2 separate regions of the Homo sapiens genome follow, and region 2 is linked to region 1. The links come from fine-mapping of genetic effects on gene expression. A gene starts in region 1. The other region holds a variant in brackets. All regions are shown on one strand. Distances are between the middles of the regions. Region 1 holds the start of ZDHHC2 (zDHHC palmitoyltransferase 2). Region 2 overlaps ZDHHC2 (zDHHC palmitoyltransferase 2).

Region 1 (2,721 bases):
TTAAAAGTATCCTACCCACCAATTCAGGAACCTCGAACTCGGACTGGAGCCACTTCGCTCTCTGGATGTAAAAACCTCAGACGATCACCTCTTTTTTTCTCTCCCTACTGTTCAAACACCTAAATTATGGTTTAGTGTGTTGCACATGTCCTCAAAAATACTTTCTAGTAGCTCACCTCCTCCACATCCTTTTAAACTAGAAAAGTGTCCAACTGGCAATCCTCAAATCATAAAGGCAGCAAAAACGCCCCTGAGCGCTGTCACAAATTTTTAACAAGTGCATTGACGCCAACCAGCAAGGGATCCAGCTCCGCCGCCAAGGCCAGCACCCCCGCGCGGGTCTGGCGCAGCTCGGGGCCGGGCCCAGCTCAGCCCTTCAGCCCCCGGCGCGCCTCGCCGGCCTCGGCCTCCCCTCTCCACAGCGGTCCCGGGGACCTTCCGCCCCTCTAGGGGGTGTGGCCGAGGCGGCGGCGGTGAGCGGAAGGCGGCGGGAGGCTCGGCGGCGAGTGCGGGGCGGAGGCGCCACCTTAACCCGAGAGTTGGGAGGGGAGGGCGAGGGGCGTGCGCGTGGAAGAAGCTGCCCCGAGGCTGCTTTTAGCGGCGGAGCCGGCGGGACGCGGCAGGTTGGCAGCGCCCGGGGCGCATCCGGGGGGCGAGAGCGGAGGAGCGGCTGAGCGTCCCGGGACAGTCGGGGTGGGCTGCGCTGCGCTGGGGGCGCCGCGGCGGGGGGCGCACTCACCTATGCACAGCTGGATGGCGTAGGCGTAGTAGGACCAGCCGAGCAGGAGGGTGATGAACACCACCGGGATCCAGTACAGCACCCGCCGGCACCGCCGCCTGGCGCTGCTGCCCGGGCCCGAGGGCGCCATCTTCCAGCCGCATCCACCTGCCCAGCTCCGCCGCCGCCCGCGGGCCTGGCTCCGGGGCGGGCTGGGCGGGCCCGGCACCCCTGGCTGGACGGGCTCCTGGGCGGCGGCGGGGTGCGCTGCGGCCACTGCCGCCGCCGTGGCGCTAACTCCCCATCCCGCAGCCCCGAGCCGGCGCGGCGGACTCCCGGCTCCTCAGCCCGGCGGAGGCGGAGGCGGCGGCTGCGAGCGGAGGCCGAGGAGGCGGAGGGGGGCGGTGAGGCGGCGGCGTCGGGAGGCTGCGCTCCGCCCCCGCCGTTCCCCGCCGCCCGGCCGCCTCCCCTGGCGTGGCAGGCTGCGCCCTCGGGCGGGCTCTGCGGGGATGCGGGGCCCTCGCTCGGGCCACCTCGCGGGCTCCCACCGTGGCCCCGCCGCCTCCGGCTCGGCCTCTGGATTCCGGGGAGGCGGGGGCTGCTGGGCGCAGGCCCCCGGGGCGGAGCGGGCGGTGGCGGCCCCTCCCTAGGCGCCCGGCACCCGGGGCAGTTAGGTCGCGAGCGCTTCCGCGCTTGGCGCAGGGCGGGGGTCGGAGGCGAGGCCGGCGGAGCAGCTGCTGCGCTCGGGACTCCGCGCCTGCCGCGACCCAGGCGCCCTGAGAAAGTCTGCAGCACCGAGGCCCGCGTCCCCGCAGCCCGCGTGGAACCCTCGCGCTTCAACTTGCGGGTCCCTGGGAGCCCGCGGGGGCCGCAAGGAGCCTCCCTTTACTACTCGGGCTTTCGGGGGAAGCAGAAATGCACAGCGAAGAGGGGGTGCCGAGCCGGCGTCTGGCATGGGAGGGGCTGTGGAGAGCGAGGAAGAAGCATTTTTGGCTGTGAATCCAGGCACCTCTGGAGTTAGAAACACAAGTTCTTTGCTCTGAGAATGTTGATGCTTTGGATAAATGATTGTGACAGGGGCCGTTCCCACTGTCCCCTCCCTCAAGTACGGTGGTTCCTTCCACCAACTATTTATTCTTTTCCTCAACCCGCTCCTCACTACGGTGTTTACTTTCGTGGTGGCAATTCCAAACTTAGCAGATAGCTGACTCCAAAGCGGTTCCCAAAAAACACCGTAAGGGAACCTAAAGGTAGTCAGCCCAAACCTCTGATTTTATGATTCACGAAATGGAAAATAAACAAATGCCTCCTTTGCTTTTCCTTCATCTGATTATGAACGCACCTGATCCACAGGGAAACATTTCAATCAATGAGTGTGTGTAAATTATGTGCATCACTACTATACATAATAGGCACAATTTTTCTTAACATTAGTGAATATGTGTATTTACACCACACAGCAACCACAGTGAATGAAATTACTTCTTATTCATGTGTAGAAGTAAAAAAAAAATACTGATTTACATGAATTCAGTCAAAGAAATTTAGCTCTGGTGTCTGCGATTATCTTTCTGTGACTGGATTACACAACAAGCTAATCTCTCCCGAAATAGCTACTATGTTACAGCCCCCCACCCCACATCTCTTTCCATTTCTCTTCAAAAATGCATAGAAAATGTCAGTCAAGTTTCTGTGGGACTTTAAATAATTGAAAAGAGAGACATATTATGTCCCAGTGAATCACTTGATTTTGCTGTAGCCTTTTATATTCTCTGTGGATATTCTGTATATTAATGTAAAAATAAAACTTCTCTGGATTCCTTAATGTTTTCCATGAATATTAATCCTGTGTTCCCCCCCAATCAGAAGAGAGTAAAAAACAGGAATTAAAACTTCCTCCTGGGACTGAAATACCCTCACAAAGAGAAGCAAATCAGTGACTGAAGGTCAATAGAGACCATCAAGGTATGAAAAGGAAGGAATCGGATTTTCCATACTGGAAA
Region 2 (3,020 bases), 33 kb before region 1:
ATGAATAAGACCTAGTATTTGACAGCACAATAGGGCGGCTACAATCAATAATAATTTAATTGTACATTTTAAAATAACTAAGAGTATAATAGGATTTTTTGTAACACAAAATACAAATGCTTGTGGTAACTGATACCCAATTTACGCTGATGTGATTATTACACATTGCATGCCTGTATCAAAATACCTCAGGTACCCCATAAATATATATATCTATTAGGTACTCACAAGTTTTTTTTAACTACAAAGAAATTCAGAATGTAAAGTGCTTGAATTGGTGTAACGGATTTTTCTCTTTTTTCTTTTTGCCTAGTCTTCATTTTCAAAATATAATTTAGTGCGGTTGTATTACTTTTATATTGAGAAAATCTTACCAATGAAAAACTATTATCACTTTAACAATCTTGCTATGAAAAGGGCAAATTTTAATTCACATGTTTTCAGTTCAGGATCCTCATTTTACAAGCGAGAGGTCTCTAACAGCTGATCAATTAAAAGAATAGCCCAAGACCTTGCGTTTTATAAAGGGAATATTCTAAGGTTCTTAACCACCAGACAAGGGCTCTTTCTTCCTAACAGTGGTCTCCAAACTCTTTTGATCATGTTCCCCTAACCGTAAAAAATTACGTGAGATCACACTGCTAACAGATGAGTATTTATTGGTATATATTCTTTTCTTTTCTTTTTTTTTTTTGAGACGGAGTGTCGATCTGTCGCCCAGGCTGGAGTGCAGTGGTGCGATCTCGGCTCACTGCAACCTCCGCCTCCCAGGTTCAAGTGTATTGGTATATATTTTATCAGCTAATAGCTTATGTACCTCATATACAAAACTTTAAAAAATAAAAATATTAAATGAATAATACGTAAAAAAATTTTTGCTATTTTTCCCCCATGCTTCAATTGAAGTCCTGGGCACTCCCACCCATTGTGCTTGCTCTCCATACTAGAGCATGGTGTAGTGAAAAGAAAGTGTCCTTAAGGGTTGAAAGGACTTTTGGTTGAACCTTAGCTCTCCCACACAGTAGCACTAGATACCTTAATTGTTTCATGTTCAAAGCCAGTGGCTCCATCTGTAAAATAGTAAAAAATAGTATCTATCTCAAACAGTTGTATGACTAAGGTACGTCTTTTGTAGAAAAATCACACAATGAAGCCTGATACCGTTATAATGTCACTGTCATCGATTTGACTGCTCCTTCAATGCTGTGTTCTTTCTTCCGTGTGTTTCATATCCTTTTGCCACTCTGTCCAATCCACTATTTCAAACCTTCTCTACTCTCCCAACCCTTAATTAACCCACTTAGGTCTTCACTGTTAGCCAATG[A/G]TGTCATATATAATTTTAGAGAGAAGTTAGAAGTCACTTCAACTTCCTGCCAAGGCCATAAAAATAAACCTGCATGTGTATGAATAACTTCTTCCCTACTTTTAGTCACTTAAAAAGTATCTCTTGAGTACCTTCTATAGGTCAGACACTGCTTTAGGCACTGGTGATGAAGCAGTGAACAAAGATACATTTCACGCCCTTATGGAACCTACATTCTAACGATGGTGTATTTTCAAAAGTATTCAACAAATAAATATGCAGTGTGTTGCCATGATGGTAAATGTTATGGAGAAAAATCCAGGAAGGTAAGGTGCAGGGAAAGCCGAGGGTAGTGGGGTTGCTATTCTATGTTGAGTCATCACAGACAGCCTCAATGATAAGGTACCATTTGTATAAAGACATCAAAAAGGTGAGAGATTTGCCTTGTCTTTTGAAAGGATCACTTTGGCTACTGTGTTGAAAATACACAAGAGGAGGCCAAAAAAAAAAAAAAAAAAACATAACAAAACACCAAAAAAAAAAACCCAACAAAAAGAAACCTGTTAAGAGGCTACTGCAAATCTATAAATGAGAGAGGATGGTGGCTTGGACCGGGGTGGGAGCAGGGAGCAGTGCGGCACATGAGTTCACATTGTGGCCATACTCTGAGGGTGAGGGTATAGAATTTTCTGATTGACTAGATGTGGCGTCCGAGAGAAAAAGAGTAGCCAAGGATGACACCAATGTTTCTGGCCTGAACAGAAGAGTGAAACTGTCATTACTGACATAAGAAAACTTTAGGACTAGAAGAACTGGGGAATTAAATGAGAAATCAGAAGTTTGTTTTCAGTTGTGTTGAACCTGAAATTTCTATTAGATGTCAAATAGGGAGCTGGAAATGTGTCAGGCGTTTATTAGCAAGCACCAGGCTAATATATTAATCTGAGAGCTGCGGCACTGGGGTGACACATAAAGTCACAGAACTCAATGAAATCCACGAGGGAATAAATGCAGGTATATAAGAAGAGAAGTCCAGGGATTAAGCTCTGGAACATTCCAATGCTTTGGCAGTCTAGGAGCTGAAGAGGAACCAGCAAAGGAGGCCAAGAAGGAGCTGCCAGTATGAATGGAAAATAAATATATTATTTCCATGAGAAAGGGGTAAGAATATTTTGGAAAGGAAATAATGCCATGTTGTATACAGGAAACTATGTGTAGTTAAGAACTACTAGAGTATAAAGTATAAAGTCAGAAATTGAGACAAGAGCTGCTATTGCTAGGCAGAAGAGACTGAGCTTTCCCCTGTGGGATATATGGAATCACAATAGATACAAGCAGTAGAGGGAAGGCGTTACATTGGTTTTTAGGAGGACCACTCCAGCTTCAGGGTATTGGATGAAGTTTTGTGGGGTTCTGGGAAGGAAAGGTAGGCCAGGCTGTAAACAGAAAACCTTAAGATGGTTTTCCAGTATGACCAGACAAACATTGCAAAAAGTAGATGATAGGCCATTAGGCACACAACTAAAATGAGAGAAACATAATTATCATTATAATATGCAAGTACAGACTAAAATTATGGTATTCACAAATGATCTGCTTGTTTTAAAATAACCAAATTACCAGGAGAAGAATACAATATCTCAGACAAGGGAGATGATGAAGACCCAGAATTAGAGCAGTGATAAACTGCCCATTAACTGACATAAGAAACAGATGA

Evidence for each region. PIP is the estimated chance that this variant, and not a neighbour inherited with it, causes the effect.
Region 2: its variant is fine-mapped to the expression of ZDHHC2 in left ventricle (GTEx, PIP 0.97).

The regions. Positions count from the first base shown.
Region 1 is chr8:17,154,872-17,157,592 of GRCh38, reverse strand. ZDHHC2 (zDHHC palmitoyltransferase 2) reads right to left here and starts at 1,111. Exons shown (of 13, transcript NM_016353.5): 1 at 740-1,111. The coding sequence starts at 869. RefSeq lists a silencer at 293-1,652.
Region 2 is chr8:17,187,930-17,190,949 of GRCh38, reverse strand. The region is part of intron 3 of ZDHHC2 (zDHHC palmitoyltransferase 2); the gene reads right to left. Among named protein-coding and RNA genes, the nearest start is that of ZDHHC2, 33 kb to the right of the region's middle. The variant A/G (reference allele first, on the strand shown) is at 1,325.